Homo sapiens: one gene and its partner. The protein of the gene in region 2 interacts with the protein of the main gene of each other region in a biochemical or structural test. Each region holds a gene or a part of one and is shown on either strand. Other genes may lie near its edges.

Region 1 (7,773 bases), on a different chromosome or scaffold from region 2:
TGTAAATAAGAAAGAAACAGTCTATTCACTTTTGCAAGACTGTATAAAACTTCCACCAAACATCAAACAATTTGCATGTCATTAATTTAAGGTAAAAGTAAATGTTTTTCTTCCATTATAAAGTGTAGTTCCTCTGTCCTAAACGGTAGTCTAACATTACCTGAAAACATAGACTAGAATAGTATGGACCTAAAAAATGAGTACTCAGGAGAAGTAACATCATCAAGCATTTCTGCAGCTCCCTATTCCCACTTTATTTAGAACTGAAACATAACCTATACTCTTAGTTCAGCAGTAATTAGACCATAAAAAACGGTGTTTCATCAGATGTTCCCCAACTAAAGAGTCACAGACACAGATGTTAAACTGTTGATTAATTTTTAACTAATTTCACCTTTTTTTTTGTTAAATCAAAGTTCTGATGGTACTAAATCAGTAGATTGCACAAGATATCCTTAAAAAGCATTTAAAATATTTCATATGAAAGAACAAATACTAACTTATATGGTATTTGTGTTCGAGGTTCCCTAATGTAAACAAATTTAACAGTTTTCTGTGTATCCACCGAGCAACTAGAATTTAAAATATCCTATCACAAGATGATTCCTGAGAATCTCCACAAAAAAGAAAAACTTATGGCAGAATTGGAAAGCCAAGATTCAATACTGAGTCAATAGACTTTTTGAGAACATTTATACTAAAATTTTAAAATCAAAATACGTGTCAAATGATGATTTTTTTTTTTTTTTTTTTTTTTTTTTTTTTTGAGACAGGGTCTTGCTCCGTCACCCAGGCTGGAGTTAGTGGCGCGATCATAGCTCACTGCAATCTCTGCCTTCTGGGCTCAATCCATTCTCCTGCCTCAGCCTCCCAAGTAGCTAGGACTGGAGACATGTGCCACAATTCTCGGCTAAGTTTTCTGTTTTTTGTAGAGGCAGGTCTCACTATGTTACCTAGGCTGGTCTCCAACTGCTGGGCTCAAGCGATCATCCTTCCTCAGCCTCCCAAAGTGCTGAGATTACAGGCATGAACCACCACACCCAGCCTAAATTATGGATTTAAAATTTAGTTGCACAGCTATGCTTTCAACTTAAAGCTAAGCATACCAATTATATACAAGTCTCAGGAATAATGAAAATTTTGTTTCTGATGACAATCTTGAGCCAAAGTATAGCTTATCTTCATTATTAGGCTACATTCAATCATGTATAAACTGTACTGAAGAAAAAACTTTACTTTTCAAGAGACCCAGGCATATAGTTGATAATCTAACTACACACTTCCCCAAATGTGAAGACAGCTAAATGGGTATCCATTTCAGCAATGGGACACCCAAAAAAGAAGAGGTAAAATGTATTTTCTGAGCTGTACTTGGCTTAGTTGTACCAGTTGACTAGGTGGTTTGATGTAACAAATGTTTTCTAAGACATTTCCCATATATATGGGCACAATATCATATGAAAAACCCTAAGGAGAAAAAGAAAAAACTTTAAAAACTTTTTTGAAATATCTTTAAAAGTTTTGGGATGATTAATAAAGGGTCTGACCTTCATGACTTGTTTTCCAGACTTGACAACAGGACAGTTATGTACAAAGATCACCTATGGTCCCAAATAATCACATCTCCTGTACAGTAAAACAGTAGTATGGTAATTTTTTTAAAAGGGCAGGACAGTTTCAGAAATACACAAATCAAAACTGAATAAGAGTCGAAATCTTTTCACAATCCAGACAGACCTTTTAAGACGATATGGGGGAAAGCGAAACAATGGAGCAGGAAAAAGAGATATGGTCTAAATTGATTAGAGAAACTTCCATGTAACAAAATTTGTAAAAAAAAAAAAAAAAAATTTGTAACTCTCTCCCCATCTCATCTCCCCAGTTTGAGTGCTTTTTTGCAACCATTTGACACGTAATCTATTCAACAAAGTTCTTAGCTATCGTTATGTCACTGGTTTCTTTTACGTAAGTTTTTCTTATATCAAATTGGCAAAAAGAGATATGGAATTCAGGAACTTGTAACACCATTAGTAACAAGACAGCCCCGCAAATATTTTGAAAATTAATTTACGAACTTGTGATCGTCTGAAGCATACTTTCAAATTTAATAAGCCAAGCATGATCATTTGTTAGGCAAACCGTTATGCAACACCTTTCTGTCCCTGAATTAATTACTTTAGAACCATAAACAATACTTTTCCTTTTTTAAGGACAAGTACTATCCATGTTGCAATTTTCTCTTAAGACTGCAAAACTGCTGCTCTTGCCCCCAGAGATAAAGCAGTTTTCTTAAATTCCAAATTTCCAGGAATATGACAACTACTTCTCTAAGGAATAGAGAATGAAAAAAAATATACTGTCAGCAATTTTAAGAACCACCTCCTCGTATAAGCAGGGATCCAGGCTGCTATGACATTTCCAAGCTCCTCAGAAACTATCTACCATGCTGCCACAAACAACAGAAAAGAACTCGAGGGTAGGAGCAATGCCATGTTGAATTTAACGTTGCACCAACACCTCCTTCGAACTTAATCTGAAGTTATCCGTTATCTCAGCCTATCTTCACAACTATCCTAAGAGGTAGGTAAGGGAGCTGGCTGGCTGCCCAGCCTCTACGGAACACACAACCTGGCTAAAGGACACGCACTCCAACTAGACAATGGCAAACCATTCTAAAGTCTAGAAGAAGGGTACTCCAGCAAAGAGTAATGCCGCCTAGATAACCCCAAACTTAAATCCTCCAAGCGTTTCCCCGCCTCGCAGTTTCGCCGACTCAGGGGCCCCCGGGGAACTGGGGCTGGGCTGCGGGGAGGTCGCGGAGGAGCAGGGCGAGGGGCGGGAGACCGAGCGATGCCCGCCCGACGCTCACCTCGCGCACCTGGGCCGGGCGGGAGGAGCAGGGATGCTCAGAGGACAGTAGCTGGGTGACATCCCCTACCTGGCCCAGCTACTCTGACTCACCTGCGGAGCCGATTTCCATTCATGGAGCTGGGGGGAGTGCTTCGAGGGAGAACGGAGCCCGCCACTGGCGGCAAGGAGGCGGCCCGGGGGGCGACGCGGCGCGACGCGACGGGCACTCTCACTCGGCCCCGAGGCGGGGGCGGCGACGGCTTCCCCTGAGCAACCGCACTCCGAAAGCTCTGGGCCGGAAGAGTCGCGGACGGAAAACGGCACAGGACTAGGCGAGAGGAAGGGGAGATGTGAGGCGCGGACAGAGGGGAGTCCCGTCCGGAAGTTGCATCGCCCGCGGCCGCCGACGCTCCCACCGCTCCTCCACGACTGCGGGCCGCCGCCGCCGACCTGCCCGGGGCCGCCCCGGAAGCTCGCCGGCGTCAGTTCCGCTGCCTGGCTTGCCCGGCGTCCTCGCCTCGCCTCTGGGCCCCGAGCCGTGCCGGAGCGACGTCGGGGCAGGAGCGGCCGGCGCGGAGGACGCCGGGGAGGTGTCCGGGAGCCGGGCCACATGCGGCGGGCTCGGCCGTACCCCGCCGGGCCGTGCCGGCCGGAGACAACGCGGAGGGGCAGGACTACTCGCGCCGCACGAGTGGGGGCGGTGCCTGTCTGCGACGACGTCGCGGCTGGCGGCGGGGCTTACCTGAGGAGTAGCCTACCTGGAGCCGGCGGGTGAAGGACCCCGAACTGCCGCGGAGGCCCCGAGCCGAGCCCGCTGGGGTAGGGCCACCCTCCTTCCTGAGCCCCCGCCACGCCCAGTCCGATCCACCCCACGCGCCGCCTCCTCACAGGCGGTCAAGTGACCACCGCAATTGACCTAAGTCCTAGGCTGCTTTAACGACCATTTTTAGGAAAAAAAAAATGTATTATAGTTTGGAAAAGATGACTAACAAACAGGACACTACACAAACATCAGATCGAGTAATTTCCATGTTTAAAACTCTTTAATAGCGCCTCGTCACACTTGAAAACCCAAACTCCTTTCCAGGGTGAAAACGCACGGCGTAAATGGGCCCCGCCTGTGCTACAGCTATACTGGTTGGCTTCCAATTCTCCCAACGGGCCAACCGCTGCTTTTTTCTGACTTGGAGCTTCTCTGCTTTTGGTTCCCTTGGCCAGGAACCCTCTCTCTCTTCTCCACCCTCCCCTTACGCCCTACCCCACAGCTTTTTTTTGCGTCTCAACGAAAGACATCTGAGACGCCTTTTCCGGACCACCCATCTATGGTGGGGCACCTGTTAGTCTACTACAGTATTGCCTTGGTAGCCCTTTGCCCAGTCTGTTATTTATTTACTACTTGTGTGCCCCCCACCTCACTTGAATGTCAGGCAAATATTAGGTCCTTAATAAATATTTGTTGCCTTAATGAAACATACTATTTTATTCAGGCTGAGGAATCATTCATAATTTCTCCCCATGTCCCTATGCTTCAGTAATACGGTTTTTTTTAATCAAAATAATTTTTTAAAGAGGAAAAGGAGAAAGAATATCCTATCTTCAGTTCCCCTCACTGTGGGACTTTGGATCAGTCACTTGATCTCTCTGGGCTTCAATTTTCTTATCTGAAAAATTGAGAGAACAGCATGTACCTTACACAGTTTGTAAGGTTAGGTAATATACATAAAGCACAGAGAAAATCCTCCCCAAATGTTAGTGAATAACACAAGTATTTACTATTTACCATTTTAAAGTACTTACCATATAATATTAAACAATAAATGTATGGGACTCAAAACCACATCTGACTCCAATTCTTACTTTCTTCTTCTTTCACATCCCTACCCCCATGGCTGAAAATACCCTCCCCAATTTTAAAATATCAAATTAAATGTCACCAGATGAAACACTGCATCTTAAAAGTCATTTTTAATCCTCGACTGTACACAATCCAAATCTTGGTAGCAGCATCTGACAGGGTAAATACCAACTCTTGTGCAAGGGTCTTTTATATCCTCAACCCCTCTGATTCTGGAACCGGTTCCCTAAACAAAGGCAGACTTCTTCAGCTTCTTCCAGAATAGACATTAGACATGGTGACAGTGATAAACCTTTGGGGTGGGCTAGTCTTTTTCAACATTGATGGAGCAGAATTTACACCCTCTGATTCAATCCATCTCAGTAAATGTCAATGATGCCTTCCTATCTACTTCTGCTATCCAGGAACCCACCTCTTTAGAGTCAATGCATGTGAAAGGCTCATGATTTGTAATATCAAGAAGTAGGAAGACAAAGAGGTTTGAAGGATTCTGCCAAAGGCAAAGCTGTATGAGGCTCTCTCCTGACTACATGTACACCCTATATTTGGATAACTCATTCCCAACTGAGTCTGCTCTTAAGGGTACAGAGCAGGGTCATTGGGTATTATCTTAACTGTCATTGCCCCAGTACCTAGAACAGTGCCAGTACCTGGCACATAGCAGCATTCAGTATATTTGTTGGATTGATGGACAGATAGGTGAATAAATAAATGAGCTTCAAGAATGGGGCTCAGCAAACAAGCTAAAACTCTGCCCTCATACCTGGTGACACTGGTTGTTCTGAGAAGAAAGAAATACAGAAATAGTACAAAATCTCAGGTGCAGAGAAATCAGTGCGCTCTGAAAGTTGAACCTCCTCAGGAGCCATCAAATACCCAGTGCAAAATTTCCTAAAATATGATACAAAAGTATAAACTAGAACAGAAAAAAGCAACAAACGGAGCTTTAATAAATTCACAAAATTTTAAACTTTTGCTCTTCAAAATGAAAAGGCAAGCCACAGACTGGGAAAAATAGATGTAAAAGATATATCCAACAAAGGACTTGTGTTTAAAATGAATAAAGAACTCTTACAACTCAATAAAACTCAATTTTGAAACAGGTAAAAGAGGCTGGGCCCAGTGGCTTGTGGCTTATGCCTGTAATTCCAGCACTTTGGGAGGCCGAGGCGGGAGGATAGCTTGAAGCTAAGAGAGGCCAGCCTGGGCAATACTAATGAGACCGAACTGCTACAAAAAAAATTTTTTTTTTAATTAGCTGGGCATGGTGGTGTGCGCCTGTAAGCCCAGCTACTCAGGAGGCTGAGGTGGGAGGATTGCTTGAGCCCAGGAGGCAGAAACTGCAGTGAGCCGCGATCATGAGACTGCACTCCAGCCTGGGTGACAGAGTGAGACACTGTCTCAAAAACAACAAATACAATGGGTAAAAGATGCAAACAACAAAGATATGGGGATAGTAAGTGAGCACATGAAAAGATGATCAATATCACTGGTCACTAATGAGCTACCAAATACTCAGTGCATGCAGGAAAGACAGAGTGGCCAGCTGCCGCTTTAAGTGTCATGTCCCTGCCCAGTAAGTCAGGCTCAGGGACACACAGTTCACACTTCCCTCCCTGCTGCCGCTATTATTCTACTCTGCTTAGGACTTTCTACTCCTAGGCTTCTTGTGTTAGACAAGAAACATCACTGGATGAGGAGAGCAACTGAGTACAATCCTCTCACATGGGCCAAGATTAGAGTCAACTGGGCACCTGAGTTCAAATCTCTTCTCCTAGACCATCAGTTTCTACAAGGTAGAAAGTAAGTTACTTTATACTCTAGCAAGATACAATATAAAACATGGGCTTTAGGGACAGACACAGCTAACACTGAAGGCCCTCTCTTACTTGCTGTGAGCCTGGGAAAGTCACTCTGATTCATGTTTCTCATCTGTAAAAGTTGAAGTACCTTTGAGACCAGATGCTGCTTATCCAACAGCCCTTATCTCCTTTCTTGCTAGTAGACATGACTGAACTTTCTAGTCTACACGACTCAAAGGATAATTCATTAATCTAAGCCACTCCTGATGGATGATCTTACTTGCTTTGCCAATGACAGGAGTGAGATGACCCATTTCTAGCAAAGCCATGAGGCCGTATCTGTTGGAGCTTCCAGGGGAAGACTTCCTTGCTTTAGAAGGACACAGAAAAATCTGTCTCTCTTTTGCCAGACACGGTTCTGTCAGCATTTCCTTCCCAGAATTACAGTAGCCATATTGGGACCATGAGGCGAACTGGCGTGAGGATAAACATGGAGGATGGCAGAGCAAAAAAATTTCAAGAAACTGAGTCTTTGGTGTTATCACTGAGCCACTGAATTAACCAACCTTGGAGTAACATTAAATTAGGATTTCTTGTCATATGAAATGATAGTTTTCTTATTTAAGAAAAATTTAATCAGAATTTTGTAATATGCAATTGAAGATAACTGATAAACTATTTCGCATGTAAAGATGCTGTAAGATGCAATTATATAAGATACTGTAGAAAACACCTAGCTAAGTACTTCAAAGTACCCAAACAAACCCTTCCTCCTTTTGCAGCTCACTCTCATTAATAGCCCACAGGCCTTTTCCAAAAACCTGGCTAAAAGTTCCCACTGTCTCTTTTAAGAGGAAAGTTCCCTCCCTTTGGAAAATGGGGACAAAGGACCAAAGGCTCCCTAGAAAGGTCCCTCAATATTATTATACTTTGTCCAAAAAAAAAAAAAAAAAAACCCCAAACAAAAAACCATTGCCAAGAGGATGGTGGTGAAGATGCTACAGTCCAGAACAACAGGACACAGTATGTTCCTGCAGGGTAAGCCACAAAGGCCTAAAAAACCTTGGTATGATATACTGGAGAAGGCAGTTGTGCGTAAGTGGAAAACTAAATGCATCTAATTCCCCAGCAAATCCACTTTTCCAGCTCTTCCTTCTTGACACAGCTGCTTTGAAGGAGTACTTCTGTCATGCTGTGTGCCTTCTAAGCCGGCCTAGGCATTTCTCAGCCTATCATCAGAGGAATAAATGTCTGCAAAGCTAGAAC
Region 2 (7,610 bases):
TTTGCAAAGCAGCATAACTTTCTTCCCTTAAGCTTCTCTTCTTTCCCCACCCAACTCTTTCTTCACCCAACTTTTAACATATAACTAAATTCATGACCCGGAGCAGTGACTCACACCTGTAATCCCAGCACTTTGGGAGGCCGAGGCGGGCGGATCACCTGAGGTCAGGAGTTCGAGACCACCCTGGCCAACATGGTGAAACCCCGTCTCTACTAAAAATACCAAAATTAGCCAAGCATGGTGGCAGGTACCTGTAATTCCAGCAAATTCCTTGAACCCAGGAGGCGGAGGTTGCAGTGAGCTGAGATCATGCCACAGCACTGCAGCCAGGGCAACAGAGCAAGACTCTGTCAAAAAAAAAAAAAAAAAAAACTAAATTGGGTAGTCAAAGCACTATACCATAAAGAATACACCAATACATTCTACATTAGCTAAAACTTAAAAGAAATTTAGTGAAATTATGAACTTGACATCTGGTAAGCTCCTCTTTCATTAGTTTTGAGTAGCTAAAGTTCTGAAAAACTGTTCCATCTATGATTTCAATTCATTTGGGTGAAAACAAAAATTATATAAAGGGGGATGTGTGTTAGAGTTTTCTTTTTTCCCTTACTTGTTTTTAATTCAGACCACACAAGCTCTAGACTAGGTACCATGTTTTATCGGGTATAGTCATTATATTATGTAACAGTGACTGGCAAAGAGTACACATTCCATAAAAATGTATAGACTATTCAAAAAATAATGAATGAATGATCTAAGGATATGAACCAACCTGTCAGCAGTTCAGACTGATTTCACAGGATTTAGGGGTTTTTTTGAGACAGGGTCTCACTCTATCGCCCAGGCTGGAGTCCAGGGGCACAATCACAGCTCACTGCAGCCTCCACCTCCAGGGCTTAGGTGATCCTCCCACCTCAGTCTCTCAAGTAGTTGGGAATACAGGCGTGCACCACCACGCCAGTTAATTTTTTTGTATTTTTGTAGAGACAGGGTTTCGCCATACTGCCCAGGCTGGTCTTGAACTCCTGGGCTCAAGTGATCCACCCACCTCAGCCTCCCAAAGTGCTGGGATTACAGGCATGAACACCCAGCCTGATTTCACAGGATCAATCTTTGCAAAAAGAAAAATCAACTATATTAGTCACAAAATCATTTTGATCCCTATAGAACTAGTCTTGAAAACAAAGAAAAGCAACCTTTAGACAGTAAAAATACAGACACGGTAAAATCATGGACTTATTTATGATTTAGTCATTAAATACTATTAATATTAATTTTATAAATGAAAAGTTATAATTTAAAAATTATGGTGCATCAAACGAGACAGCCTTTAAAAAAGGCACACTGACTAATTTGTATATGCCTAAATAAATGTACAATGAGGTAAAATAAAATTGAAAATATATTAAAAAGAAAATTTTAATTACTATGATGGATAATTATGGATTACTAAGGATAAAGGAAAAATACCAAAGATAACTGTTACCATATCAACCAATAATCTGAAAACTTCCCTTTAATCATTTAATTCAAGTGCCTAAATACAAACCATTTGCCAGAACTAAGAAACAAAGGACTAATATCATGTTAATCCAATTCATAAAGGAAATATTAAATTTACTGTATCTGTCTGGGTGTCTTAGAGCATCCTTGTATTTTAATAATAGATTAAATAGAGCAGAAAATCTACAAATGGCACTTAAATTTAGGATAGTTATAATGTAGAATTTTATAAATGTATTTCAGATTCTATGATAAAAATGGCTGCTCTAAGACAGTTTTCCTACAAAATCCACTCACCATTTTAAGCATCATAAGTTGAAATTAACTTTCTAAAAACACACACACACTTTTCTCCTTCAGCACAATGAATCATCACTTAAGCTCTGGACCCAGAGACACAACTACAGAATCAATTGGGTTTCATAACCTCAAAGTGGAGAAAGTACTGTTATCTCGGTGGGCAGAATGTCATGCTTTTGAGTTGATGTTTCTAAGTCTTGCTGTTTTTCATTGTAATTTTGTACCCCTTCTCTCCCTTATTACTCTGTGAAAGGCTAGATTAGACAACAAATGTGTCAATTCTATCAAAACAATATTAAATAGATTCTGAGCACAAGCCACAAAGCTTTCTACAAATAAAATGCATGAATGTTAATAAAAGCTTCTTAAAGTGCTTCTGGACTGATCAGAGGCATCTTTCTGTTTATTTCTAGGTTCTGCACTCTGCAATGCTGACGTCAATCTTAACAAATAACCTCTAAACAAATAACCACAGAATGAATTGTTATATCTTCTCCCTGTCCATCCTTTGGAAATACAAACAAAAAGAAACAACAAGGAGCAGGCAAACTTATAGAAATCAAAAACCATGCTATTTTTTTAAATGACAGTCCCACATCTGTCACCACTGATGACCTCTTCAGGTCTAATACCTCTCAACCACCACTTTTAAATCCAAACTACTCTCTCCTTCTCGTAGCAACTCCAAAATGCACTGAAAAAAGTACATTTCTGAGCCTAAATTTACATATATTAGAGAAATTTTACTAAAGAGTCTCTTCAGATGTAAGAAGTAAAAAATTAGAAACAAAAGTGATTTGAAATTCCAGATCATAACTATCCTAAATTTAAGATAGGCTTCCTTCACCGCACATGATAATATTAATAATGCTATTATGCTTATCAACACCTCAAAAGAAAAGCAGCAGACCAAACATTCAAATTTTTTTGTTTTGCTTGGCAACATCAAAATACTTAATTTTTTCCTGTTTCTTGAAAACTCACAGTAAGGTAAGAAAGGACATTCACCAGTGAGCACGCTTGATGGTAGCAAGAACACTTTAGATTGCCCACAAGCAAAAGAGAAAAAGTATTTTGCAGATGTATTTCCACTTAACATTAGCATAACTTTTTTTTTACAGCTTTATACAGGCTTTCTTTTAAAGCAAAAATCACAACATTCTTTTTTAAGTGTCATGCTAAAGATAAATTATCTTTCTAGGTGTCTTGGAGCATCCTTGTATTTTAATAATAGATTAAACAGAACAGAAAATTTATAAATACCACTTAAATTTAGGATTTGAAATCTAAATTATGAAAAAACAAATTATGAAGAAAAAAATGCCTTTCAATGCTGTTTACATTTTACATCAAAACTTCATTAAGTTGTACAGAGTTGGTGAGGATTTGGGGAACCTAGCATTCTAATGCACTGTTGGTAGAAAATGTAAGCAAAAGCAACTTAGTGAGAAGATTCTAAATTCTAAATGTCATAAATATCCATTAGCCAAGCATTTCCCCTTGTTATAACTTATTCTATAAAAACACTCCCACAAGTACCTAGATACATATCAAATGACACTCATTTAGCATTGCTTCTATCAACAATGAAAAAAAGACAATAAGCGAAATGTCCATCAATATCAAATCGTTTAAGTAAACCATGGTAATTCTTATATAAAGAAATACTGCACAGCTGTTATAAAGAATGAAGTATCTATATGCACTGACTTGGAGCAATCTTCAAGGGTACATGGTTAAATGAAAAAAAGGAAACTGTAAAATAGCATGTGTAATATAAAAAAAAGAATTGGAGAGCCACGCATCAAAGCTGATGGCAGTCATCTTTGGGTGTATTAAGAACAATGTAAGTTATAAACTGTGTTTTTCTAATGTTTCCATGTCATTAAAGGAAGACATTAATGTAAAAACTTGTTTTAAGATCTTTTAAAATGTTATTTCTTAAATGCTTCATAGGAACTTTACAATGGCCCTATAAACACTTAGGTTTTTAAAATAGGTTCCATTCAACAAAATGTTATTCCAGAACAGCCCTATTTTATAAAACAAAGATGAAACAAGTGCCAATTGTGGTTTCAAAAATTTACACAGAAGTCTTGTAAACCTTATAAAAGCAAAAAATAATTCCAACATCAGTGTTTTTCCATAGGATTTTCTTTTTTATCTTAACCACAAAGTGATCTTTCAGGAAATCATATATAGTGTTATAAATCTTCCCAAAGCTTAATATTTCTTTATCTTTTTATTCTATGTTCAAATCAAATTAAATACTTTCATCAGCATGTAGATTATGACCCATTTCTCTGAAACTGTTCATCTATCCTTCTACGTGAACACATGGAAAGGCTAATGTTCACCTAACGTTAATGATGAGTAATGATGGCCATTTCTGAGTGATGAATGTTGGGTAGTTTTACTTCCTTCTTTGTATTCTTCTAAATTGTCCAAATTACTTACATGTATATGTCACTTACATAACAAGTCTTTTTAAATACTTATTTTTAATTAGCTATTGTCGTTTACCTCCTTTAGCTTTTGATTATTATCTTTTGAAAATTCATGATACTCTAAGGCTCTAATTTTTAACCTTCTGGGCTCTAATGACCAGTCCATAAAAAAACAAGATAAAAGAACGATGTACAACATCATGAAACAACGTAAGATCCCACAGACTTAAAAGTAAGTTTCATGTTTAAAACATAGTCCTGCTCCGCAGTCACCTGGGTTAGGAACATCTGTGCAACACATTACCTCCATGATTTGCCACGTAACAGAGCTCGAATTCACATATATAAATTCATGGTCTTAATCTATGGGCCCAGAGGCTAGGCTACCAGAAATCATAAAACGTTAGAGAGATCAGCTATTAAAATTGAGAAAAATAAGGGCAAAGTTACAGAGGCAAGGAATTGGTGGGTAAAAGGGAGAGGAGGAAAAAAAAGAGCTAGAAGATATTTGAGAGCTCAGTATCTACCTCTAAATTTCTGGGGAAAAAGAAAGTGAGTTTTGAAGTCACTGGAAATACTTCATGAGTGCTAGTGCTTCTGAATTTTTCAATAAATTACAGATATGTAAAATTAAAATAAAACTCTCATTCTACTCTCACCTATAAATAAATTTATAAAGGATAAAAAACCAACTCACCTGCCTGTCGTACTGGGAATTCCACATGGTCAGAGACTATAATCCGAAGTAAACTGGGGGCAAAATTGATAATCTTGTAGGACTGAAATTACAAAGAAATGTTTTATAAAATAGGGCAATATAAGTGAGTAGCTTATAAGTTAGCACCGGTTACTGAATACATTACTGTCCAAATAAAAGAAAAACTTTTAAACTGAGACAAACCCTTCAAGGCAAAATGAAGATTACTAAAATACTTCAAGTCAAAAAAATTTCCTGAGCAGAAACTGATGAATAAAAGAATGTGAACATTTTTATGATTTTTTTTAACATATTGTCAGAATGGTCTCCAGAAGTAGTATACCAATTTACACTCCCAACAGCAGCATATGGTAGTGTCCATCTATCTAATACAGGTATCATCATTCCTTTGAAACTTTAAAATTTTATTAATGTTTTAAATTGCATTTTCTCTATTACTAAGGAGGTTGGGTGTTTTCCTCTTTGTTGGCTGTTTTTTCTACAAATTCCTTACTCCCTTTATCCTTTTGTAAATGGAGTATTTGCTTTATTCTTAATAAATTCTAAGAGCTATTTATGAATTTAAAATCTCAATCTTTTATTTGACCTATACATGGCAAGTATTTCTTCCTAGATTATTTGTGCTTCAATTTTGTTTATGGTATTTTTGACAAACAGAAAACAAAAAAACAAAGGCTACAGGAAATAGGAGACCCAACAGAGCAAAACAGAGAAGATAATGTTACAAAGTTGAGCGTGAGCAATGGAGAGAAGCCAGTCCAGATTGGAACAGTGTGACTCACGAGATGGGGTTGAGCACACTGTCATCACCAGCTGCCCTCTACTGCTGTACTATCTTTTACACTTAATGCCTAAGTGAGCCTGTGGGGATGAAGCTCCTGCTCTGCCCTGTGGCCTGGGTCACTTCACCCCACAGGTGTGCTCTACTATGATCTGCTCCTGAGTTTGGCGATGGGGACCTTCAAAGCAAAAAAATACAGAGCATCCACTCCTTCTGATCACGTTATATCCAGATGTACAGTACCTGGACTATATTACAGTCCTGTCACATTCCAGAGTCCACATATGCCTTTGTCCACTGACATTCATTTGAAAAGACTCAAATTCCAGTGAGGCCAAACCAGACAATGACCCAGAGAGTCTGTTCAGCTCACCCCTCTCCTCAGAGCCTGGATCTGTGGGGGCATCCCTTTCAATACACAGCTAGGTTTGGGCATATTATTCATTTTTTTAAATTAAAATCACATCTATGAAGGTAAGTGTTTGATTAAAAAATTAATTTGGACACAACTGGCATTTTAAAAATATTAATCTTTTTCATCCAAGAACATTGTGCTTTCCCAATCTTTCTATATCCTTCACAAAATTTTGAATTATAATTTTCTTCCTTTCATCCTGTGTAGTCTTCAGATCACAAATCTGTGGCATGTAAATTCTTTTTTATCCATAATTGAAACCATCAGAATTTCAAAGCAGTTTTTAAGAAAACAGATTTGTTCTAACAACCGTTGATAGGAGGCAAAATTAACACAGATTCACCCAGCCTTCACCTTCTACATATGTATTATAACTCATGTTTATCTTTGTAAATACTGAAAGATCTTGTCATGAATCAAAGATTAAAACATCTATATAGTTTATTCTAATCATAAAAAAACTGACTTCCGTTATTTGTTTAAAAATCTTATTCCACACATACAAAATAACCTTTACACTTAAATAAATGCTACTTATTTGAAAGTAATATACCTATTGCAGAGACTTTTATGTCAACACTGTTGCCATTGTACAGATTTTGAAACTCCTCTTTTTGCAACTGTTTGCCATTTTAAAAAATTTCAGAAACCTTGTCTTCTTTCAGCATTGATTCATTCTATATTAACTTGGCCAGCTAAAACATTCAGAGATATAGTCAGATATATTTTCATACTACTTTACTCAGAAATAGTTACTCAATTTCTTTGTGCCTCTTCAGGCTTCGAGTTTCTAAAAAATAAATAAGACTAATTTCTCAATGATTTCCTGAGGATATTTTGTATCTGTGAAGTTTTCTGCAAATACGCAGTTTGCTTAACTAAATTCTGCATTTATGAGAACTCATAAAGCAAAAAACTGATGTCTCCTCCCATCCTCTGACTCACTGCTCCGCTGCATTAACCTTTCTAGTCCTCCAGCATGCCAAGTTGAGGGCCTTTTCTGAACCGATATTCCCTCTCAGTCCTCCAGCACGCCAAGTTGAGGGCCTTTTCTGAACTGTTGTTCCTCTCTCTGCTCTTTGCCTGGCCCATTCCTTCACAACATCCAACTCTCTACTCAATGCCATTCTTCAGAGAATGGCTATACATCCCAACACTCTTGCTCGGGCTTTACTCTCCACAGCACTTATGACCTGAAATTATATTAGTTACTTGCCTGTATCCCCAGCTCCATGGAAACAAACTCTTATACCAATATCTGCAACATAGTAACTTAATAAATATTTCTGTGCTATTTACATAAACAAATTATCTTAATAAAGGGTAATGAAAATTGCATGTACACATGCATGGAAAGCAGAGATTCAAAAGCTTGGCAATCAAAGTAAAAACTTATTTCCCTACCGAGGCCATGTGAAGGATAATTTATTAAAAGAGGACACCTTT

What was found. Proteins that work in one complex are often made in the same cells at the same time.
Region 1: the proteins of IPO8 (region 2) and AGO3 form a complex in vitro, tested with the Homo sapiens proteins (one study listed by BioGRID).

What each region holds. Positions count from the first base shown.
Region 1 is NC_000001.11:35,926,634-35,934,406, reverse strand, and holds the start of AGO3 (protein argonaute-3), read right to left. Parts: upstream 3,303-7,773; 5' UTR 2,981-3,302; coding exon 2,962-2,980; exon of another isoform or gene 1,548-2,961; intron 1-1,547.
Region 2 is NC_000012.12:30,685,549-30,693,158, forward strand, and holds part of IPO8 (importin-8), read right to left. Parts: intron 5,030-7,610; coding exon 4,948-5,029; intron 343-4,947; exon of another isoform or gene 252-342; intron 1-251. UniProt on the Homo sapiens protein: Involved in nuclear protein import, either by acting as autonomous nuclear transport receptor or as an adapter-like protein in association with the importin-beta subunit KPNB1.